Regions from separate parts of the Homo sapiens genome. Here region 2 is linked to region 1. The links come from fine-mapping of genetic effects on plasma protein levels. A gene starts in region 1. The other region holds a variant in brackets. All regions are shown on one strand. Distances are between the middles of the regions. Region 1 holds the start of THBS4 (thrombospondin 4). Region 2 has its middle 7.5 kb from the start of MTX3.

The links. A credible set is the group of variants that fine-mapping cannot tell apart. PIP is the posterior inclusion probability: the model's chance that the variant is causal. Protein levels are from antibody-based Olink assays in UK Biobank. Linkage for the fine-mapping came from a reference panel and not from the study's own genotypes, which makes the PIPs less certain.
Region 2: its variant is the best candidate, but not a certain one, in a credible set for the plasma level of the THBS4 protein (UK Biobank, PIP 0.72).

What each region holds. Positions count from the first base shown.
Region 1 is chr5:80,029,118-80,042,018 of GRCh38, forward strand. It overlaps THBS4 (thrombospondin 4), which reads left to right and starts at 6,231. Exons shown (of 22, transcript NM_003248.6): 1 at 6,231-6,508; 2 at 10,960-11,163. The coding sequence starts at 6,421. It also overlaps the pseudogene TRMT112P2.
Region 2 is chr5:79,992,291-80,005,191 of GRCh38, forward strand. It overlaps a transcript of THBS4 not described here. Among named protein-coding and RNA genes, the nearest start is that of MTX3, 7.5 kb to the left of the region's middle. The variant A/G (reference allele first, on the strand shown) is at 5,116.

The DNA.
Region 1 (12,901 bases):
AAACTATCCAAAATTCCCAGCTACTTGGGAGGCTGAGGCAGGATCCAAATTCATGTAATTTTCGTGTATTTTGCAAGTTTGTTTTATGCCATATTAATTCATTACACTCCACATCATATTTTCTTAGCAAATACATCTAGACACCTGGCACTCAGTAAGGGATATTCCTGGCACGATAATCATTGTTATCATTAGACATTGCAGGAACCACCATATGGATGGATAAATGTGTTGTTTAATGAAGGCAAGCAATTACTTTAAGAGATCCTAGTTGTTATAAACTCTCTCTGGACTTCAAGTTTGGTATATACATAATTATTAAATGTATACATAATTATTAATTGTAACATGTCCTCACAATTGATTTCTGGCTATTTTTCTAAGGATTTTACACTTTATTTAGTAAAATATATTAAAGAGGTTAATGATAATTTTTTTATAGAGACCCTTAGATTGAAAATGACTGATTTTTCACACCTCTTTTCTTGCTTTACTAATCGTCAGTGCCTAATTGCTAAAGCAAAATATCTTCTAAATTCTGGGGAGGAAATTCTACTTTGGGCCAGGCGCGGTGGCTCACGCCTGTAATCCCAGCACTTTGGGAGGCCGAGGCGGGCTGATCGTGAGGTCAGGAGATTGAGACCATCCTGGCTAACATGGTGAAACCCCGTCTCTACTAAAAATACAAAAAAAAAAAAAAAAATTAGCCGGGCATGGTGGTGGGCACCTTTAGTCCCAGCTACTCGGGAGGCTGAGATAGGAGAATGGCGTGAACCCGGGAGGCGGAGGTTGCAGTAAGCCGAGATCGCGCTGCTGCACTCCAGCCTGGGCGACAGCGAGACTCCATCTCAAAAAAAAATAATAGGAAATTCTACTTTGAATTGCACACTAATCAAAAGACTCCAGCTTCATTTACAGAGACCTTATCTGTGCTAAGTAGTTTTTGGAATAGCTTTTTTCCTGTCACTTAAGCACCTTCCTTTATTATTAATAGTAAACTAAATAGGAGTCCAAAGTCTGCCTTTCCCAGTGCTAGAGTATAAATGTCATCACACGGTAGAATGTAAACATCTTTTTTTTTTATTATTTTTATTTTTTTGGACAGGGTCTTGCTCCGTGGCCCAGGCTGGAATGCAGTGGCATGATCATGGCTTTCACTGCAGTCTCAACCTCCTGGGCCCAAGCAATTCTGTCACCCCAGCCTCCCAAGTTCCTGGGGCCACAGGTGGGCACCACCATGGCTAACTAATTTTTTAATTTTTTTTTTTGAGACAGAGTCTCACACTGTTGCCTGGGCTGGAGTGCAGTGGTGCAATCTCGGCTCACTGCAACCTCCACCTCCCGGGTTCAAGCGATTCTCCTGCCTCAGCCTCCTGAGTAGCTAGGATTACAGGTGCCCACCACCATGCCTGGCTAATTGTTTGTATTTTTAGTAGAGACGGGGTTTCACCATGTTGGCCAGGCTGGTCTCGAACTCCTGACCTTGTGATCCACCGGCCTCGGCCTCCCAAAGTGCTGAGATTATAGGTGTGAGCTACTGCGCCTGGCCTGATTTTTTAATTTTTATTTTTATAGAGATGAGGTCTCACTATGTTGCCCAGGTTGGTCTCCAGCTCCTGGCTCAAGTGATTCTCCCACCTTGGCATCCTAAGTGCTGAGATTATAGGCATGAGCCTCCATGCCTGGCCCCTTTATCCATCTTTTAATGTTAATAATTATATCCATTTCTGTTTCCTTCAAAAATTCAAGTGGAAAACCTGACATAAATAATGGTAACTTTTTTATTATACCTATATCAATTAACACATATGTATAAAACTTCTACTTAGTTGTGCCAAATATCAGTGCACAGTATGGGTGATTTCCCCCACTTGCGAAGAATGGTGCTATAGTCACCGCACAGGAGCAGGATAGATCCCCACTCTCAAAATTGGGTTTGGATATCAAAATCAATAATGCCATCACACATGCAGCAAAGGGGTTTGAAAGGTTTATTGCTCACATAATACGTTTTTTTGGGGGAGAGTAAGATGGGCTTCCAAGCTGGTCTGAAAACTAGAGAGAACAAGAAAGGAGAATGGCTTTGGGATTCTTATTGTGGTTAGGAGTGGGGCTGTGGTGAGGGTTCCTGTACATGGGCTAGGGCTTACTGTTGGAACTTTGTGCTAGTGCCAAGGAAGGAGCACCTAGGCATTCTTATCAGTTTGCTCAGATGTGGGGCAGAGAGGAAGGGAAGTGGTGGGGCTTGAGAACTGTCTGCAGTCAAACATCAAAAATTAAGTCATACTCTGTATTACAACAATTAGAAAAGAAATAAAATGTAGTATATCAGTTCTCTATTGCTACAATATTGTTACATAACAAACAACCCCCAAACCTCAATGGTATACAAAAATAAATGTGTCCTGCTCACACATCTGGAGTCAACTAAACAGCTCTGCTGATCTTGCCTGAACTCATTCATCTGTCAGCTTGATCTTGGCTGGCTTTGCCAGGGGTGGGCTATACCCTGCTCTATGTCTCTCATCCTCCAGTAGGCCAGCACAGGCATGCTATCATGGCAAAGGCAAAGGTGCAGGAGTAAACCAGCCCAATAACACAAGCACTTTTTAAGCCTCTGCTTGTGGCACTTTTGCCAAAATCCTGTTGGCCAAGCATGTTACGTGGCCAAGCCATGAGATGTGTACACAGAAAAATAAAAGATGTGTACACAGAAGAGCAAAGAATTGGGGCCATTTTTGTAACCTACTGCACCTATTAATGGATTACTAATATGTCACAACTCTTATCCTAGATTACAGTATTAAGAGAAGGAAAGTCAATTCAATGATATATTTACTACTAAATGTTAGGTACTGTACTTGGAATTAGAGTTACAAAACTAAATGAGATAATCCTAAGGAGCTCACAGTTGGATACTGGAAAAAAAATCAAACAAATTAATACATTATTAAAATAAATGAAATAAAATCCAATGTAAGTACATGAATAGATATTTTAATAAGAAGTGGCATGGAAATGAAAATAAACTCTTTTGTCTCCTTTATCATATATTTCATAGCTAATTAAATTAATTTTATTATAATCAAATTTACTGTAGACCTGAGGACATAAAGTTTACTGAGACTCCCTAGCGAATGGCTGCATAAAAATGCAAGCCCTCTAAAAGCAAAACCAGATTGTAAATTCTGTTAGGCTAACAGAAAGTCATTTGATTCTTTTGTTTTTCCGTTACACTTAGTAGTCAACCAAAATTTATTGTGTGCCTATATGTGTGTATTAGTCAGAGTTCTCTAGAGGGACAGAACTAACAGGATAGATAGGAAGGGGAGTTTATTAAGGAGTATTGACGCACGATCACAAGATGAAGTCCCACAATAGGCCGTCTGCAAGCTGAGGAGCAAGGAAGCCAGACTGAGTCCCAACACCTCAAGTAGGGAAGCTGACAGTGCAACCTTTAGTCTGTGGCTGAAGGCCCAACAGCCCCTGGCAAATCACTAATGTAGGTCCAAGAGTCCAAAAGCTGAAGAACTTGGAGTCTAATGTTTGCGGGCAGGAAGCATCCAGCACAGAAAAAGATCAAGGCCAGAAGACGCAGCAAGTCTGCTCTTCCGTCTTCTCCTGCCTGCTTTATTCTAGCCATGCTGGCAGCTGATTAGATGGTGCCTACCCAGATTGAGGGTGGGTCCGCCTTTCCCAGTCCACTGACTCAGGTGTTAATCTCCTTTGGCAGCACCCTCACAGACACACACAGGAGCCATACTTTACATCCTTCAATCCAGTCAAGTTGACACTCAACATTAACCATCATGATGTGCAAGCTATTTTGCTGGGAATTTGCTAGGATCGAAAATTCCTAGTTTTTTTGTTGTTTGTTTGTTTTGGTTTTGAATCTTTAATGAGAAAAAATACTATTGTGCTCAAGAACACCGTGCGTCTGGTGTGTCATTGGGTCAAGGGTTGGGGACACACATGGCAGAATTCAGAAACAGGGTAACATCAACAAAAATACACACGGTCATAAAAAGAAAAACTGGCACCTGGCATGATCAACTCTGTTTCCTCATCATTCAGCAGCATGTTGGGGATCCTGCGGCTGATGGGGAACACACGTCCAGACTCTGGGCACTGCAGGGTGCCCTCCAACACATCTACCTCCAGCAGCACGTGGTGCATTGTCCTCACCATGGAGATTCCTAGCAAATACTCTAGGTATTTTAAATAGAAGAAATTTAATACAGGGAAATGATTACATATATAGTAGAAGAACTGAGATGTCAAACAGAAGAGTGAGGCAATCCACATTTTAGCAACTGCAGTAAGTGACCTCCAATGTCATGGCTGGAGGGTGCAAATGGTGAGAAGGCAGAAGCTAGAATCATGGTGGACCCCACCTGCAAGAGTCACAAAGAAGATGCATCCATTCAGGTCACAGAGAAGTAAATACTCTAGTGTCTACCTTCTACCTTCTTATTGCTCTCTAGTCTCCCATTTTATCTAGACTGCTGACAAGCATGCAGTGGAAGGTGAGCACCAGATCTGAGAGGAAACAGGCAGTGTCTGGTGGCACACTACACAAGAACTCTCACAGGCATCCACTAGGCTTGCTTGGTGACTCATTTAAGGAGTAACCCTATTTTATGTATCAGAGTAGTCTATGGTGTGATATAGCATATTGCTGCTTTTGATGTTTGGTTTCATTTGTTCCCTGTAGGCACCTAATCACTGTTTTTTAAATTCCCCAGGAGATTCTGGTATACCCAATCAGCTGAGAACCACTGAATAGTGGCTTTCAAAATTTTGAGCATCCAAATATTGTCTTCACAGAAAATCTTAATCTCTGAAGTCTACTGTAAAAACATAGAAAGGCAAGGCTGTTCTGCTTGAAGCGTAGCTTGGGAGCCTAGATTCCTCTCAAACCCAGGCCACTCCTGGGAACATGGTCTGGAGATTTGAATGTTCCCAAATCTAGTTTATCTCATTAGTCGATATTTATGCACATCCTCTGTGTCTCTCAGTGTTCTCTCATGTGTAGACATATGCCCCATTCCAAAGAGTGACTGTAGTGTAATGTGGCATTAAAGGAACCCTGGATAGACCTGTATTGGACCTTACATATTAGAGAGCTCTGCAGATAGCTCACAAATCTCCAAGTCGCTAGCTGTAAATTGAGTGATAATTGGTGTCAGGTTATTTTAGCACAGTTTGGGGATAAAATGGTGCATTAATCTCCCAGTTTGTGGCTTATTAAACTTTGAAATGGAATTATTTGAGACATAAAAGAGATAGCAATACTTTGCTGGATGTTCTCCATTAGTCGAGATTGTTACAGAGGAGAAATTTTTGCCACTGTTTATCAAATATTTTTTCCTCTAGTTAATCCATATCATTCCGGGAGCTTTGCCCAGGAAAAGGACGAATTACTTGCGTTCCTCCGATCTCTTTCAAGTTCTACTCCCGTACCTTTAAACTGTCACACGGAATCTTTGGTGACAGAGGAATAGAGGTGGGCAAGCAGGGCGTTTGGAAACCATACTGAAAACGAATTATCCATAAAGCACAGATTCACCAGCCTAGAAATGGCTCTGTCTGGATGGATTCCTTGAGATGTGTTTTATCTCCATTAAAAACACAACAACTTTCAAACTTTCACTGTGTCTCAAAATGATAGAGAAAAAAATTCAGCCTTTCAAGTATTCAAGAAAAGCTTGAAGAAATAAAAGAAACTCGCTGCTCTCTGGGCCACTTTAGGAGGCAGAGCGTTCCTGGAGAACTTCAGGATTCATTCGCAAGGGAACCCAAGGTGGGCATTCAAAGCCGATCCAAAGGATATTCTTCTTTTTAGAAAACAAAAGGAGCGCAAGGAGTAGGGGACTGAAGGTGCCCAAAGCTAGTGGGTCAGTGTCACTTTCTTCCTCCCTTTCGCCCCTTTCCTCCCGCTCCTTTCTCCCCTGTGGTCTCTGCTCAGCACCCCTTTCTCTCCAGCCCCGACTGCCCATCTTCGCCCCTACCCTCGCGCGTCGGGGCCGTGTCTACACCCACCCCAGGACCTGGTCCGTCCAGGCTCCTTCCCATCCTCACACCCGCGCCTTTCTCCCTGCGGCCCCGGCTCGCTGCTCCAGCTGCCCAGCTCTTCCCAGGACAGGGGATCCCGCCAAGGGGGCCGCCCCCGCCCCGGCCCTCCCCCGCCCGGCCGCACCATAAAGCGCCCGGCCGCTGCCGCGGAGCCCAGCAGCCAGCTCCCCAGCACCGCACGGCGGGGACGCGAGCGCGCCCCCGACGGCAGCCCGGACGCCGAGCACGGGTCACCTGCGGCGCCGGCCCGGGCGCCGACCGAGGTTCAACGCACGGCCCGGGGACCCCCAGGCGGGGCCAACGCCGCCGTCGCCCCCGGCCTCGCGGGGAGCAGGAAGAGCCAACATGCTGGCCCCGCGCGGAGCCGCCGTCCTCCTGCTGCACCTGGTCCTGCAGCGGTGGCTAGCGGCAGGCGCCCAGGCCACCCCCCAGGGTAAGTGGGTTCGGGTCGGGCCTGGGAGCGCCGGGCACCGGGTGCCCCATCTGCTGAGTGAGTGGAGGGACTTGCTCGGCCCTGTGCTCCTGTGGCCTTGCTCAGCCCCTCTCTGTCCCTCCCGGGCCCAATCAAAGCATATTGTGATTGGAGGTAGTGATTAGTCTAGAATTTTCCGAAATTCGATTATCCAATGATGAGAACAATTGCCTAAATAGTTGGGGGATGCAAAATTGTTTCAGACTATGCAAAGATGTGGGGTGGGGTTGCCTTCAAAACTTGCTACACGGTCCTAGACCTCTTAACATGTTAGGCTCTGGTGTAGGGTGAATTCCGGGTCCTGCACCCTGTGCCGGTTCCCTCCAGGCAGCCTTGCTCCCTAAATCCTTCCTCAGGCGGAGCGATGTATGCCCAGAGTCTGCTCTTGACATCCCTGAGAAAGACGCAGAATTACTCTACTTGCCCTGCCACCTGCATTTTCTGCTCTGACTTTGCTTGAACGACAAAAAGAAAGTTTATTTCAAGGATTGGCTTGATGTCTTAATTTCTGAGGTAAATAGGAAGGGCTGAGAAACTGGTCTTTTTCAATGAAATCAGTTCTTTGCAGCAAGATGGATGCAGCTGGAGGCCATTTTCCTAAGTGGATTAAGGCAGGAACAGAAAAGCAAATACCATGTTCTCACAAGCGGGAGCTAAGCAGTGGATAGATATGGACATAAAGATGGAAACAGTAGACACTGGGGACTCCAAAAGTAGGGGGGAAGGTTGGGAAAACTACCAATTGGGTACTACGTTCACTGGGTGATGTGTTCACTAGAAGCTCAAATCCCACCTTATGCAATGCACCCATGTAACAAACTTGCACATGTACCCTCTGAATCTATAATTTAAAAAGAAAAAAGAAAGAAATTGATCTTTTTCTATGAAACGGTAAAAATTCAACAAATAATGTGAAAAGATACTTGGACAATCCTCAAACCCCTTGGTGAAATGGGGTGAAATAGCCATTGGGTAGAAAGCAGTTAAACAGAATTTTTTGTAAAGACCAAAAGGAAGACATGATTTAAGCAAAGAAAGATCTTAGGGCTATAACTGGCCCTAACTGGTCAGGCGTGAGCTTCATCTGTTTGAACTTGGTGCCTGGGTTGATTTATTACTGACTGTGGAAGTAAAACTGGAAGAGACGCACAACTTGAAGTAAAAGTTGTTTTTCCTCTTGTAGCCAGAGCAAAGACTGCCTATGAGGGCGTTCTCAACTTCCCTGCCTCTCGCTGCTGGAATCACCCATTTAAACTGCATTTCGCCAAATAACTCATTTTCATTCCAGACCAGACAACCAGAACTGTGGTTTCAGGGGTTAGAGTACTGCTAACTTTTAGTTTGTGTTGAAGTATTTGAAATGCTGTAGTCCGTGCCCCATACTTCTAGGAAGGTAAAAAAGGAAGCTTTTAAACACTTCAAAAGTCTTATTGTGATGATATTTGGCAAGTTCAAATTTATAGGTATAATTTTTTTGTGTTATATACGTTCTTGACTTTTGAACATACAGCTTTATGGTGTGCCTTAGGTATGTCTCAGACATACCTGACCATTTTATGGAGATTTGAACTCGGCCTATACAACCTAAATTATCTGGGTAATTTAGTTGCTGTAGATGATCTGATTAAGTTAAGTTTCTGATAGATTCTTTTATTGCATTATCTAGTCTGCAATTATCAGGCTTAACAGGATAATTTGATTATCTCCTTCTTCCCCTGAGCTTCATTGTTGGTCTTAAATTAGTATATATTCAATTTACATACCATGGTAGCTGCGCTCATTGGTAGCAGTAATTTCACCTCTAACAGTAGAGGGTTGTGCTTTGATCCTGGCACTTAAACGTAATAACATTAATAGAAAATGGTAGTGTCTCATTTCCTTTTCAAAACACTCTCTATGTTCATTACTAACTAATCCCATCTCTGCCGCTTGAGAGAGATGCAAATGAATCAGACGAACCATAGATTGAAATACCGCAAGTTTAGCTTGAGTTACATCATGAACCTGATCATAGTCAAAGGAAGAATCAAGAGTACTAAGAATTTTGTTTTGAATGTAGTTCCCATACTTTAAATACATATCTCTTTTCTGAAGATGTTTTGTCCTGAATGGAACTTTAAAACATATTGCCTTATTTCCCTTTGCCCTCATTAGTGGAAATGTAAAGTTTCCAATTCTCTTGAAAATTAAAAAATCCAATTTCCCTTTTGAAATGCAGTAGGCAACAGTGTTTATGGTTTAGGGATATAGGCACTAAGAGGAGCACAGTAAATGTTCTGCTTTCCAACACATCTCATGTTAATTTCATTATTGTGTAAGGACCCCTGGTACATGTGAAAAATACAGTATAGATCCAGTTTGAAGACAAATTGTCTTTTAAAAGGGGTAAATATTCTTGAGTAACTAGGTTTTTGCCTGTTTGCTTTAGAACTTTTATTCATTCTTATTACAAAAGCAATACCTGCCCATTGTAGAAAAGATTAAAGTTAGATAAGCAAAAAATAAAATAAAAAGAAAAGAGGAAATTTAAAACTTATATTTATGCAACCCGGGGATAGCTTCTATTAACATTAACATGTTGTTGTATTGTCTTTCATTTCAAATATTTTTCTATGCAAAAATATATTTCAAATGGAATTACGTTATACATATAGTTTTAGAATCCTTTTTTCTTAATGTATCATGAACATCTTTTCACATCTGTAAGTATTCAGCTACATTTTAAAAATAGGTAGTATTCTGCTTTTTGGAAGAATCAAAATGTATTTAGCCAGGGTTGTAATATAGAACCCTTAAGTTGTTTTCGGTTTTGATATTGTAAATATTAATTTATTGAACAAGTGCAGGTGTCACAGGATGGTTTGGGATGAGTTTAACCATCCCCTCAATCTCAGCCAAGCCCTTCTCTTTTTTTTTGCTAAGGACAGTTAATGTTTTCATAGCAAAATGCTATGCCAACAGAGCTCAGGTTTACCTCTCTTCCAATTAGATTTTCACCTAATTCTTTCCTAAATAGAAATTCTAGAATTACCACTAGTGTCTAATATTCTTGTACCTAAATCATTTACCATGTTATCCATTATTTCCCTAGGATAAATTCCCATAAGCAGAATTGCTAGATCAAGGAGCACATATGTTTTAGGGCCTTTGATACTGTTGTTTAAACTGTCTTCAAAATGTTTATACTAGTTTAAATGTTACACAGTGGTACAGAGAGTGCCCATTTCCCTGAACCCTCACAAACAGTTGAGTACTGTTGTATTTACTAATTTTCCAATTCGATGGTGAAAACAATACGTTATTGTTTAAGTTAGCAACTCCTGCATCATTAGGTAAATACATGAACATTTATTTATATACTTAATGGTCATTGTAATTCTTTTTATGTAAATTGCCTTTTCATATTCCTTGCCCATTTTTCTATTAAGATGCTTATCATTTTATTGATTTGTAAGAACTCTTTATCAATTGTCAATATTACCCATTTAATAACCAGATTATTATATCCAAGAGACAGCTGTAGGTGCTGAAGTTTCTGCAGCCTATGGAATTGTTCAAATGATATTTGCGTCTGCTAATAGATATACTAAATAACTTCCACTGAGTATTACCCAAATTTGGCCTTTGCCTTTTAAATGACTCTGGGCATACTCTCTCATAGCTTTCATAAATATTACAAAGTTTGTGAGAGAAAGTACTGCTTGCTTGATCAAAAGCAACTTATACAAATACAAATGCAGATTCTGATTTTTGTAGAGCAATTCTATCAGTCAAGAGACAGAAACCACATCATTTTGTTTTGTTTTGTTTCCACATTGGGATTTTTTTAAACAGAGAAATGTTGGAGAATTGTAAAGGCACAAAGGGAACACTTAGGTCTCACAAAGGTGGCAAATCACTTTCTACCAGCACATCTACCACCATAGCCATGTTTTCTGCTGCATTTCCTGTCATTTGTCACTGACCAGGAAAACACAATTGGCTCTGGTCCTGGAGGTGCCTATGGGACTCCGTGACAGAAATTCACTGCTTGGGGACATCAGTAAAGCAATGGCTTGGATGCTTTCACCAGTCCCCCTTGTACTTTAAGCCTTTAGTGCTTTTCCTGGTGGGCATTTTCAGAGCTACTTGTTCAGCCAAACCCAATTATGTGTTTGCAAATTCAGTCCTCTCTCTTGAGGGCTACACCCAGTGATGAATATTGTGCTGTATTTCTTCTGGCTCAAATGTCCAGCCACTATAAAAGTGACAGGGAAGAACTGGTGAGTTTGGCAATACGGAAAAGGGATTACAAGATTAGTTTACATTACTTTGTAGCTTACTGTCAAATTGCACCCCCCCCAAACAAAGAAACCCTGTTTTCCCCAAAATTGAATCTTTCACTTATACCCCTTCTTCTCCCTTCTTCCCAGTCTTTGACCTTCTCCCATCTTCCAGTCAGAGGCTAAACCCAGGCGCTCTGCTGCCAGTCCTGACAGACCCCGCCCTGAATGATCTCTATGTGATTTCCACCTTCAAGCTGCAGACTAAAAGTTCAGCCACCATCTTCGGTCTTTACTCTTCAACTGACAACAGTAAATATTTTGAATTTACTGTGATGGGACGCTTAAACAAAGGTAAGCAAATTTGCTGAAATTATTTTCTTAAAAATCTCCTTTTTCTATTCCAGGATTAGGGGTATACTGTCTTTGAGATGGTTTCCTTGTACAATTATATTCTCACTCACTAGTCATTTCAGTTTTTAATACTGAATTCTTCTTACTGTACATTTACCTATATTGGCGGGGGGGTGGGGGGCGGTTCAGGAAGAAAGTGACATTGGGAGAAAAAAAGAATTGCTGTGACCAAGATGCTTTTTGACATTGTCTCATCCTGATGTTATTCTGAATCCAGTTCTGGAACAGAGAGGACAAGGGACAATTCAGCCATTATCTTAGGCAGCTCAGGCTGCTATAACAAAATACCATAGACTTTGTGGCTTAAACAATAGACATTTACATCTCACAGTTCTAGACAGTGGTAAGTCTAAGATCATGGTGCCATCTCAGTCCATTTTGTGTTGCTATAAAAGACTACCGGAGACTGGGTAATTTATAAAGAAAAGAGATTTATTTAGCTCACAGTCCTGCAGGCTGGAAGTTCAAGGGCATGGCCCTGGCTTCTGACAAGGACTTTCTTGTGTCACAACGTGGTGGAGAAGGTCAAAGAGGGAGCAGACACATGGGAAGAGGGGAAAACCTGAGGGGCACCGTAGCTTTATAATAACCCACTCTCTCAAGAACTAATTCATTCCCTTGAGAACTAATCCATTTTCACAAGAGCTGAAACTCACTGTCTCGAGAACAGCACCAAGCCATTCATGAGAGATCCAATCCCATAATTCATATGCCTCCCACAAGGCCCTACCTCCCAACACCGCCACATTGGGGACCAAATTTCAGCACGAGTTTTGACAGGGACAGACATACCATATCCAAACCATACCACCCGCAGATTTGGCTCCTTGTAAGGGCCCAGTTCCTGGATTGTAGATGGCCATCTTTTTATTGTGTCCTCACATGATGAAGACAGACAGCAAGCTCTCTTGTGTCTCTTCTTATAAAGTCACTATTCCCATCATGAGGGCCACACCCTCAGGACCTCATCTAAACCTAATCATCTCCCAAAAGCCCCACCTCCAAATACCATCACACTGGAGATTAGGAGTTCAGTATATGAATTTGATGGGGCGGGAGGAAGGGGACAGATACAAACATTCAGCCCATGACAGCCACCCCATACTATTCTTATGTTCCCTTTGAAGCCAGTGCTCAGTAGACCTAGCTCCTAACTCCTTAAGCACCTACCTGGCCGTGATGGAAAGAATATACCTCAACCAGTAGAACAGGATGAATAGGGCTCTTTTCTCCCTGTGCGTGCCAATTTACACAGGCCTGTCACTGGTTTGATCCCTCTGCTGTCATTTGTTTTGTTGCCGTAGTGAGTTACTATAAGCACTGAGAAGTGAGTCCCAAAGAAAATGGTCACTATTTTTCATTGCCTTCTCCTCCACTCCTTCCCCGGGGGACAACACCTGTTCCTGTTTATTAAGGAATGTGACAGATGCGTGTTCCTGCTGCTTCATGCATTTAATAAAATAGGAGGGCTGGTTCTTCTGGCTGGGTTTTATGTTTATTTCAGTTTGCTTTACAAAGTGGACACTTCCTAGTGCTTCAAACTCTCTCTTAGATTATATTTGTGATTGTACACTTAAATCTGCAGGCATTAGGAAATGAAAGAAGTTTCTAATTCTTAACTTTCATAGGACTCTAAAGTTAAAAGTATAAATGAATGGGACTTTAACCCCTTCTTTTC
Region 2 (12,901 bases), 37 kb before region 1:
GTAGTCTTTCTGGGACACCCTCGCAGTCATGCCTCTGAGTTCTTTCCTCTATTCCACTGAGATGGTCGGATCTTCTTAACTAAAACTCAAAAGAAACCTCTGCAACTTTTCGTAAAATTACTATTCAACAAATATTTGCTAGGCACTCCCTTACTGTTTACATAATCATTCAAATTACAGTGCCAGCCTGCTAAAGTCTTTTTTACATGTTTCAAAACCAAGAGTTCTAAGAAATGAAAAAGAGATATGTCAGAAATGAGAATTCATTAATAATAACTGTATAATTGGAAAATGCATAACATATGTACCATTAAAACTGTCGAAACATTTATTGAGCAGCTCCTATGTCTTAGACATCATAAGGTTCTGGAACAATACAGAAATATATAAAACATGAATTCTGTCCTCGGGAGTTTACAGTGCACAAAGGAGATATACACACACCAAGGTGTAACAAGTCAGATAATCACGAGTAGGGTTAGAAATATAAGCAAAATACTACAGAAACACAAAGGAGGGACAGTGCATCCTCTGTGTGATCAGTGGAGACTATCTGTTGAGTCTTCAGTATAAAGAAAGTAAAGTAATTCAACTTTCAGATTGTAATGGAACCTCCCTGTTTTGAGGGTTAGAAATGTCAAACCATAGACTGACAAAGGCAAGGCAGGGGGAAAGAAAATCCTAAGCCATAAAGCTGAGGGTCCATATACTACATTCAGGCATTTAAAACAATCATACAGAAAGAATGTGGATTTCCTGAGCCTTGTTTGTAGCAGGACTGAGAGGAGTGAATGAACATTCTTAGTGGACACATAACACAGTTACTCAGTTTGGCCTTCTTCCGTACTGCTGCTACTACATACAGTGATTTCATTTGCATTAAAGAGAAATTAAATCTCTTCCCTTAGTGTTGAATTGAGACAGAATAGCATGTCATTGCATCTGATGAAAGAATCCTTACACACAGGTTTATTAGTGCATAGATAATAGCAATCTTTTATTGCTGCAGTTCCTCTTGAGAGTCTGTATCTGTTAGATTGAATTTAAAAAACTCTAACATAGCTGATTGCACAAACAGGCTGAATACTGTTCCAGAGAACCACACAGAAAATTGAAGCCTTCAGAAATTATGCCTGGTATGGTTAGTTGGCTCCTGTGCCTTTTCCTGGCTGTTTTAGAGTATTGTTCAGAGTTCATCTAAATCATAACTTCAGATTCCTACCGGGAAGAATACTGTCTGCAAAACATCCATGTTTGTGTGGGATGGCCTGAATCACAGCTTTATAATGAGTATCCCAGACAGTGTTTTCCCCAAAAAAGAAATCTTATTTTTCAAAAGATGATCATTAAGAATGGTTTCATCTGGTGATAGTCATCTGAACTCAGGCAACCTGACCTTGGCATCCATACCCATCCTTCATGTGTTTCTTAACTTGGGAGCCACAGTGCAAGGTTTGTTAGGCTCTTTTTGTCTGGGTGATTAAGAATCTGGGAAATGGTGCTGTTGGGAAAGATGAAAGGTTTGTGACAAATGATGGTACAGTATATGGTCCCTTATGGGAAAATTAAATTGTAAAGTCTTAAATATCCCTTTGAACTTGAAGATTCTGTAATTTGTGTTCAGATATAAAATCCTTAAGGAGGGGAAAGAACAAACACTGAATAGAAAAAAGGAGAGCTGAGTTCTTGACTTGGCCTCTGATTAGCCATATGCGCTTGGGCCAATCATTTTACATTGATACCTCTGCTCATTCATTTATAAAGCAAAAGTTCTTTTATCTCTGAGATGCTATCATTTTATGTGTAATGAACATTTAATAATTTCTGACATTTATGGAGCAATTTCTACATGCCAGAAGTTGTTTCAAGTATCTAACATAACTTGCTTTATCTCCATAATGATTTCATGACACAGGTACCTTCCTAAGGTTAACTAACATCTTTGTGTCCCTCCTTGAAAATAGAAGAAAATATCAGTACCCATATAGCCAGTAGGTGGTAGAACCAAGATTTGAACCCAGGCAGTTTTGGCTTCAGAGTTTATACTCTTAACCACTGTGTCATACTGCCTCATGTAGCCTCCTGTGTAGTCCATTAAAAAGCCCAGTTTCACCCAAAGTGGAGATATCAATGCCATGATATTATTGTTATTATTTATGTAAATAATATTTGTTTAGTATTACACCATTAAACGAATTCATTAAGCAGCTTCTGTATGCCTAGCACACTGCAAGCCTGTCAGGGAATAAAAATTTATGTTCGCCTGTAATCCTAGCACTTTGGGAGGGAGGATCACTTGAACCCAGGAGTTCAAGACAAGCTTGGACAACATGATGAAACCTTGTCTCAACAGAAACACAAAAATTATAGCTGGGCATGATGGTGTGTGCCTATAGTCTCAGCTACTTGGGAGGCTGAGGCGGGAGGATGGCTTGAGCCCAGGAGGAGAAGATTGCAGTGAGCCGTGATTGTGCAAAAACTTATGTTCAAGCTTTTAGAGGCACAGTTGATGAAACAAGGCCCACATATTTGAACTAACTAGAGACTATTAGGAAGTACCATTTTGTCAAGAAGACAAGTCTAGTATGGTTTTAGACAAAGGCTTGAATGTACTGCAATGCTTGGCAAAGGCCTAATGAAAGAAGATGATAGCTGATCTCGAAGGGTGGGTACGTTGCATTTAGATTGGCACAGAGTAAGGCATTGCATATGGGCTGTGCTATATAAGTGAAGGCATAGAAACAGGACTGACTATGGCAAGGAATCTGAAGATGAGTAAACGAATGCTGGGTTTGGTTATAAGCTGGAGACTGCTCAGGGAGAGTATTGGTTGACTAACTTGAGAACCAGAATTGGAAGGCATGGGAATTTATAGTTTTGAGAAAGTAAAGACAAGTAAAAGTCCAAATACAATATTAGTGGATTTACATAGTCAAGGATGGGAGGTAGACAGCTATTGTTACATGGACATTATAAGAAGAAGCATTTTATAAACCCATAAACTATATTAAATAAAGTAAAAGTGTGGTGGAAAATGCTGCTGAATATTATTGGAGGAAGGTCACTTGGCACCCTTCCGCTGAGCATTTTTGATAGAGGAGGTTGTTAGAAATCCAGTGGCAAGGGATTACTGGAGAAAAGGGTATAAACGATAAGGACAGGTCTAAGAGCATGAGGAATATGACTGATAAAGGAAGAAGAGAAATGGGACAGGACTGAAAGACTCAAAGTTTTTGAAAGAGACGACATGGTGAATCTACACACATATGAGGACAAAATTGGCTATTATGAGTAAAAGTCTGAAGATGCTGGAGAGAAGAAGGATGGGATCCTAGAAATTGCCCTAAGAGTTGAGGCTGAGATCCGGAGCTTGAGCAGCGGGGCTGGCAGGCATTGAAAATGAGAGACATGCTCTCTTTCTGACACTGGAGGAAGTTTCAAGGGGAACTATGGGATGCTGAGTAGATAAATCAGTTACCTTCAAATTTCCCTATTACATTAGAAAAAAAATAAAAGTGCCTGAGAGAAAGAGATTGGGGCTTTAAAAAGACAGCTGGGCACAGTGGCTCACACCTGTAATCCCAGAATTTTGGGAGGCCAAGGCAGGCAGACCACTTGAGGATCACTTGAGGTCAGGAGTTCCAGACCAGCCTGGCCAACATGGTAAAACACAATCTCTACTAAAAAAAAAAAAAAATTAGCTGGATGTGGTGGCGCACACCTGTAATCCCAGCTACTCAGGAGGCTGAGGCAAGACAGTCGCTTGAACCCAGGTGGCAGAGGTTGCAGTGAGCTAAGATCGTACCACTGCACTCCAGCCTGGGCAACAGAGTGACTCTGTCACACATACACACAAAAAAAAAGGCGGAATAATTTAGAGACTATATCAGGGGTTAATAAAAAGTAAATGGGAGCATTGCTGACAGTCGTAAAGGTCAAATGTAAATTAGTATTAAGGCGATAAATCAAGGGAGAGCCATGGGCAGGCTAATGATTAGGTGCCTCTTTAAACAGATATTCTTTAAATATTCATTCAGTTTTTTTAAATGGAAATAAAGTTGGCCCCAGAATGTAACAAGATCAATTTATATTTTACCAATTATTTTAAAAGTTTTATTTGGAAATCCGGATTTTAGTACCACTTAAAAGTTGGTCCTGAGGATGATAGAAGAGGGATGGTACCCTAGGAGTTGCCCCAGGAATTGAAAGAAGATGAACTCTGTAGCTTCAGCATGATGGGGGCTCAGCCATCCTGACGTCTAGCTAAATTTGTACAGTTGTGTGGCTTCCTCTAAAGATACTTTGTTACCCAGAAGCATAAAAAGCCAAGTTCATGTATTTGGTAGCTATGTGAAGGTGATCAGGCAGTAATATATACTGATAGGGATTCATTTTGCTCCTCCAGCATAGTAAACCTGCTGTCTTTTGTATGAAAAAGAATTAAATGAAACCAAAATGAGAATATTATAATCTGACATTGTGCTGAATTTATGTTGAGGAAATAGGACAATTATACTTAAAAAATGAGGTTTGTAAAGGGTCCTAGGTGGAAATAAGGACCTTATAATGGAAGTAAATAATGGAAATAACGGAAGCCTTATTTCTATACTTCACTCAAAGTGGTAAAACCTAATATACCAATAGACTGTGATGTTAAATATGTATATTATAATACTGAGAGTAGCCACTAAGAGAACTATACAAGTGATATACTCAAAAATACTAAATAAATCAAAATAGTTTTTTTTTTTTTTTTTAAGTCCAAGTAACCCACAAGAAAGCAAGGGGCCAGCAGGGGAGTGATAGGTTGGAAGTGGGGAGGTAGTCAGAGAGATGAGAAGTTGAGAATAAACAGAAAACAGGTAACAAAATGGCAGGCTTAAATCCTAAAATACCAAGACTTATTCTAAATGTAAAGTTGATCTCAATACACCAATTAAAAGACAGAAATTGGCAGAGTGGATAAAAAACCTAAGCTAAATGTATGCTGTCCCTCAGAAACTTCCTTCAAACATGACATTGGTAGATGGAACCTAAAAGGATGGAAAAGTTATACCATGCAAACATTGATCAGGAAAAAAAAAGTAGTATGCGTGTATGTGTGTGTGTGTGTGT[A/G]TATATGAAGGACATTACATAATGATAAATGGATCAGTCCACAAGACAACATATTAATCCCAAATGTGTGCACCAAACAACAGTGCTTCAAAATACATGAAGCAAAAACTGATAGAGGTGAAAGAAGAAATAGACAAATCCATAATTTTAACTATAACATAAGCTATAGTTATACCCGACACTCAGCAATTGATAGAACTACTGGACAAAAAATAAGCAAAGATATAGATGAATTAAACAACAGGATCTAATAGACATTTATGGAATGCCCCACCCAGTGACAGCAGAACATACATTATTTTTAAGAGCCTATATAACATTCACCAAAGTAGGCTATTATGAGTCATAAAGCAAACCTCAACAAAAGTTTTTAATGAAATAATGCAGAATATATTACTTGACTGTGCTGGAATTAAACTAGAAGTCAATAACAGAAAGATAACAGTAAAATCTCCAAAAACTTGGAAATTAACATACTTCTACGTAATCAGTGGGTCAGAGAGGAAGTGTCAACAGAAAAGAAATATATACAATTGATAATAAAAATACAACATTTCCTATTAAGAGAATGACAAGAAGCCACAGACTGGGAGAAAAAAATTTGCAAAACATATATCTGTTAAAGGACTTGGGTCCAAAACATACAAATAACTCTTAAAACTTACAACAAGAAAACAACCCAATCATACTGGATTAGGATAGACTGCAAATCCAGTGATTGGTAACTGATATGGTTTGGATTTGTGTCCCTGCCCAAATCACATGTCGAATTGTAATCCCCACTGTTGGAGGAGGGGCCTAATGGGAGGTGATTGGATCAAGGAGGGATTCCACCCTTACTGTTCTCATAATAATGAGTTCTCATGAGTCCTGGTTGTTTGAACATGTGTCGCATCTCCCCTTTCTCTCTCTTCCTCCTGCTCCAGCTGTGTGGGACGTGCCTGCTTTGCCTTCGCCTTCCACCATGATCGTAAGTTTTCTGAGACCCCCTCAGCCATGTTTCCTGTAGAGCCTGTGGAGTTGTGAGTCAATTAAACCTCTTTTCTTCATAAATTACCCAGTTTCAGGTATTCCTTTGTAGCAATGTGATAACAGCCTAATAAAGGTGACCTTATAAGGAAAAAGAGACATAGCAACACAGACGTAGACCCAGACCCAAAATTGGTGAAATCTGAATGAACTCTGTGGTTTGTACCAATGTCATTTTCATGATTTTAATATCGTACAATAGTTACAGTAGATGTTACAATTGGGGGAAACATCCCTGTACATTTATTTTACAACTTCCTGTGAGTCTATACTTAATTGAAATTAGATGTTTTTAAAAAGAATTAAAGGTAATGTAATGGCATGTGATGCAAAAAATGGGCACATGAAATATCCAGAGCATTCAACCAGATGGCAGCTAAAAATGTGGACCATCTGCCTTCATGGAACTTTGTATTTCGGACATCTTTTCATCAGCAAGACCATGCCATTTAAATGTTTTCCCAGAAGTGATGCTGAGCTATGTTCAGTGGCCACATGGCTCTCTAGAATCAGTAACAATGAATAAGGATGGACAGCCGGGAGTAAAGATGCTCTCCAGGAAATCATCTTAGGACTGGGTAACCCCACTACACCCCTGGGATTCAGTCAACCTTGGAAATCACTGGAATCCTTAATATAAACTACAAACAATCCAGCATTCTCTGTTTGGCTAAAGATACATTTCAAAGTTTTCTTTAAGAAAAAAAAGCAATATATTAAAACGCTTTGTTTGAATATATGTATATTTGCTGGATCAATAGTTCTTACAGCCATATTACTAAAATTAAGGGCTATGGCATAATAAGAATTACTATAATTCTAAACCCATTAACAGTTTATAGCTTATCCATTTCTTATACTATCCCTGTGAGGAATAATTATATCAAGCTTTATTTGTTTACACCAAACAGGAAAAAATAGATGTATTTATTCATATTTCCTCCATTGGATTAGCCAAGTCTACTAGGGAGCAAAAATAGTAAATTCACATGCCTCCTTTTTTTATGGTAGTAATTGAAAAAGTTATGGATATGATCCCATTTTCTGAAATGTTTAAAAATGAGTGTATAAAATGATCTTATTTTCAGAACTTAAGTCATTATGTGTATTGTTTATAGGGAGTTATATTACTTTTCCAGATTAATAGGCTGCCATCGATAATGAAGAACAAATAAATCCTGCCTTGTGAAATGCTGCCATTTTAAAATTTGCCTGAGGAAAGATTCATTATTGGAGGATTCTTTGCTTTATACATAAATCGCTTTAAACAGCAAAGTCTCCTAGCATTTAAAAATAGTCCATATATAAAAATTCTCTCAATCCACAATCATGTCAGTTGTGTAAAATGAGATATATCTGGTCTGATACCTCAGTTTATGGAAATTCCTCTTGAAATGTCAGTCATTACTCACATCAGTGCTTTAAATGCCATCTTAGCAAACTAAAAGAAATTAGCGTACATTTTGAGTAATGGAAGTGAGTTAGGAAGAGGAAAGAACAGGGTCCAATGAGTTTGAAATGGTGTTTACAGTTGGGTATTGTTCATAGCTTTTGGAACTGTCTTGCTTCCCCTATTCATCAAGGTGCTGAGGCAACAACATTAAAATCAACCCAAGAAGTATACTGAGTAGGTATATGGGAGAATGGCATATTAACTTCTTGATAAAATGTCTCAGTATGTAAATACTTATGAATTATTATTAATTTATATTACTGTACTTACACCATTTGATTACACCTGCATAAAGCTGCATACTCATTTTTACTTCAAATGCAGGAACTAACTCTTATATCCCCCACAGCATTTAGTTGGCACATAATAGATGCTTATAGTTGATGGACACAAAACATATTCAACTATTACAAGAACAGAACTTTTATTGCTTCTTCAGTTTCAAATGTCTCAAAGTTACCCTTTGCTTTTGACCACAAAGTCTACCCCTCCTTATGGTAGTTTCCTCAGGTGTCTGTGTCCTCTCTTTCCATTGCATTTTCTTCTCCCACATCTACCCAGTAACTGGAGTCTTCCTCCTTTTGCTGCCCCTTGACTACAAGGCATTTCCATCTTTTGGCTTCCTAATATGTCATGCCTTCTGTTATTGCCACCACAGCCTTCCATTTCCCAGCTCTCATTTCCATCCTAGGGATGGGACAGTAAGGCTGTCATGAATAAGCATAATTTATATGCCTTTTTCTCCATTTGTTGGTATGGATAATTAAGTGACCTTCAACTTTCATTCAAGGTTAATCATAGCGCTGAAAACCAAAAGGATAAGATGAGAGTGAGCAAATCAAGTCCAGAGAGGTGTATTTCCAGTGTGGAACAGTAACTCAGTGTAAATATCCAGGAGAGAGGCTTCCAAGAGAGCGTATGTGTGTGCACTGGTGAGGGGAGGAAGGGTTACGGGCGGGAATTGTGGTAGAAGCTTCCTGAGGCCAAAGAAAACATTCCCAGAGGGTCTCTATTTTAAAGAAAAGATTTTCTTTCTCTGATTTTTTTTATATGTAGATGTCTTCATTATATATTTGGACCTGTTTTTAAAACAGCTTAGTTTTAGATTTATTCTTCGAGATAACTTGTACCTATGGACATCACCAACAGCTTACAAAAATTAGACCAGTTGACTCTCAATAAGACTTCTCACCTGATCCATGAGCATCATCTCTTTATTTGGATTTCATAAGCCAGATGATATCTTAAAATTGGCAAATATAATTACAACTCCGTTGAACATATTTTTCTCCAGAAAATGTTTTGAGTACAAAAACGACATCTAGAGGTGACTGTCAATATATCTTTTCTTTGCACGTACTACATATTTGTTGCCGTGTTTTAGAAATATTTTAGAAGTTTGGGTAACAGAACCGGCAGTGGCATTTATTGAATTCTTCCTCACAATAACTGAAGGGATAGTATTATACTCGTTTTGCAGATATAACCCTTTCAATCCAACTAATATTTATTAAGTTTACTAAATGCTGGCACCAGTGATACCAAGATCAATCAGATGTAGCTCTTGTTACTGAATGGCGTACATGGAGGAGATAAACACAGTAACGTCCACTCTTGTGTGGTGAGTGCTGTTGGAGATTAATTAAGTGTTATGAGGTTATAGAAGAGGAATTATTCACCCATCTGCAGAGGGCTTGGGGATGAAACAGTGTCAGTGAAGCACTCCTGGAGGAGGTGTACCAGGGGAGGTGTTCCAGACAGAAAACAGCTGAAGTAAAAACATGGAATAGAGCAATAGTATATTGTGGTCTGAGAACTACGTATAATTCAACATTTCAGGAGGGTAAAGTGAGCGGTAGATAATGATGAGAAATAAGACTGCAGGCACAGTCAGAGGCCTATTTACCCACACAAAGGAATTTGGAGTTGGAGGCACCAAGGGTAAATATCTTGTTTCAAAAAGTGATTACATGAGGATTTTTGCCCAGTTCTGTTTGTCTCCAAAGCCATGATTTTTACATTAAACCATATTTACTTCATAGACATTCTTCAAATTAACCATTTACCAAAGATGTAAATAAGTTATAAGAAGAAAAACAATACTAATTTGGAAGATAATAAAAGCATTATTTGGAAAAAGCCAGTGTAGTATCTCTATTTTCAATTTGAACTTTGAGTCCAATGATTAGACATTTTCTAGTCCCATATTTTATACCATACCATGCAGTCTGCTTTTGTTAACTATCATTAATAGTGAAATGACAAACTGACCAGCATCTAATACTGGGGTTACACTGGTGGGTACCCTACAACAGGCGTTTTGTTCTTTGGTATCTAACCACTACCTTCAGTAGCTGCCTGACAAAGATGTGAATCTGAGGCCACACTACCTCAAGGGCACCTCTACCAAGACACATCTGCTGGGCCTAATGAAAACAGAGGTTTCTCCTAGCCCTAGCATTGGAGACTGACATACCCTCAATGGATGTCAGGGGAGACCCAGTCACTAAGGATGACTCTCCTGCCCCTAACCCATTAGCATGTCCCAAAAAGAAACAGGAGACCAAAGACCTTTGCCTTGTATAACAGTCATGCTGCCTCGGAAAAGCTGGGAAGTCCCCTCCCAGTGACCCCCATGCTCTATCCTAATGTGAACGATGTTCATGCTTTTTCATCAAATCTTTTAAATAGAAAGGGTGCAGAGAAAGTCAACTGTAATCACTTGGTGCAGAGTGCAGGGAGAGAGAGCATTTCATATTCAAGAAGAAATTGTCCAAGCAGTAAATGGCATTGTGGTGAGTCCTGTAATTGGAGATAGTAGAGAAACACTGGACAGCTGAGGAAACTCCAGAAGGGAGAAAAAAAAAAAAAAAAAGGAAAACCTAAGAACAAAATAAAAGAGTCTAAAATTTACACAGAATCAGAAAAAGACTTCTGAACAAAATAGCATTGATGGTGCTGGGAAACTTAATTAGTGCATACCCCTTACAGCAGGAGGTGGGTAGAGGAACTGTTATGTTAACGAAAGATCATTTGAAAAAAAAAAAAACAAAAACATGTTGTCTTTCTCTTTAAAATTTTAACTAAATTCCCTGATTCTTAACAGAACAGGGAATATACATTTTTCACTAAGGAACAAGTGTGTTTTCTTAAAATTCCATATTATGATCTGTTACAGGTGAGTGGGTGGCAAGTAGAATATTGTGGTTAACTCCTGGGATGGAGAAAGGGTAGGGGAATCGATATTATTAAGAGAGGGATATAGGAGAGGCTTCAGTAATTTGCAGTTTGAATACTGCAAACTTAAGTAGTAGGAACTAATGTTTCTGGAGTTATTCCTTATACCTTTATAAATGCCTAAATACTACAAACATTTCATAAACTTTTAAAAGTGAATTGGAGATTCGGGCAATATTTAGGGAAATGAGAGGGCGCAAGAAAGAGATCAGAGGGGCAGAGGATGAGAAGAAGAGGAGAAGTAAGTAGGGAGAGAGAGAAAAAGGGAAGGAATGGTTTTGAACCTAGTGAGCTTTTGGAAGGGTTAGGTTAGAGGTCACATCATGCTGTTTTCCTTATCAATTCTTACCCTGATTGAGTAGCTCTCTACCTGTTTCTCACCAAATGGTTCAAGCAGCTGCCATGGTATTCTCATCTCTACTTCCCAGCCACAAAACAGCTCCAGCCAACATAAAGCAGTTCTTCCAGTAGAAAAAAGAAAAAAAGAGCACCTGCAATTCCCTCAAGAAGAAAAGAACAAAAACAATGAGTATATATGTATGAATGAACCTAAAGCAGCTCTAAACTACTCCCCTTTGGGGACAGAAGCAGATGCCTTCGCCAAATTCAAAATGAAATCCCATATCTCTGAAGACCCCCTTCTTATGTTACTGTATAATTTACATGCAAGTTGTCTGCATAGTTAATCGTCCTCTATAGCATCTGGTATTTATCATCAAAAGCCGCTTGTTGAGAGGTTCTGGAGAAGCTCTTCATGTATCCCGGGTTTTAAACATTTTTCTACAAGTCTGTTTCTTTAAAATTAAAAGTGTAGCTGAGCACAGCGAGGATCTGGTAGTAAGTAGTAGGGAGGGTCATTCATACTTGGGATGTTGCTAATGTGACCTGCATGATTCAGGGCCAGAGAGGTGAATGAAGATAAAGGGAACTAAGCGTTACAGCCAAAAGGGTTCTGAAAATCTCCTAGTCAGATTCCTCAGTTTCCACATTTGACAGTAGCTTTCGCAGGGAACCCCATCCACCATGACTGAGCTGAAACTAGAAGCCAGGTTTTTCAGGTGTCATTCAGGGTTGATTTAGGGTTTTGGTTTTCTCCTGCAAAATGGAGAAAATGGGAAAATTTTAGATTATCCATGTTAGAAGGATGATGAATGTGTGTAAATGATATTGTTCAGATTCTGTGAGTGGGACCAGCACCACATTGGACTGGCCTAGGGAAGTCAGGATTCTGCCTTCTAGGTAGGTGCTCCCATCTGTTGGTGACCTGGAACATCTCTCTGTGTTCATTCTGGAGATGCAGATCTGGGTCCCGCAGACTCAGACCTTTGCAGGACACTAGGGTGGCCCCTTGTTGCTTCTCATCTGCTATAGTCTCCTGCCACTGTGGCCTACGGGTTTGATTTAGAAATTCAGGAAAGACTAGAAGCAAGCAAACAGATAAAAGGTTAGTGAAGTGTTTATCCACTAGAGCAAAGCCACAACTTTTCGTATTATTTAGCTCTTATTATTCTAAATTTTAAATTGTTTTTTATTGTTTCACTTACCATGTGTAACTTTCACTTTTCAATTACACATGGCAAGTGAAAGAATAAAAAACAATTTATTTATTTTTTATTTTTATTTTATTTTTTGAGACAGAGTCACGCTCTGTCACCCAGGGTGGAGTGCAGTGGCGTGATCTTGGCTCACTGCAACCTCCGCCTCCCGGGTTCAAGTGATTCTCCTGCCTCAGCCTCCTGAATAGCTGGGATTACAGGCACCCACCACCACACCCGGCTAATTTTTGTATTTTTAGTAGAGAGGGGGTTTCGCCATGTTACCCAGGCTGGTCTCAAACTTTTGACTTCAGGTGATCCACCCTCCTTGGCCTCCCAAAGTCTTGGGATTATAGGCATGAGCCACCACGCCCAGCCAAAAAAAACAAAACAAAACAAAAAACTAAAATTTAGAATAATAATAAGAGCTCAGAAAATGACAGTAATTAAACAAAGGTCACACGGAAAAGTTGCCCTTGATATATCTTGGGACAGGGTGGGTTTTCCTTATTGTTCTTAGCTCCTTTTGTTA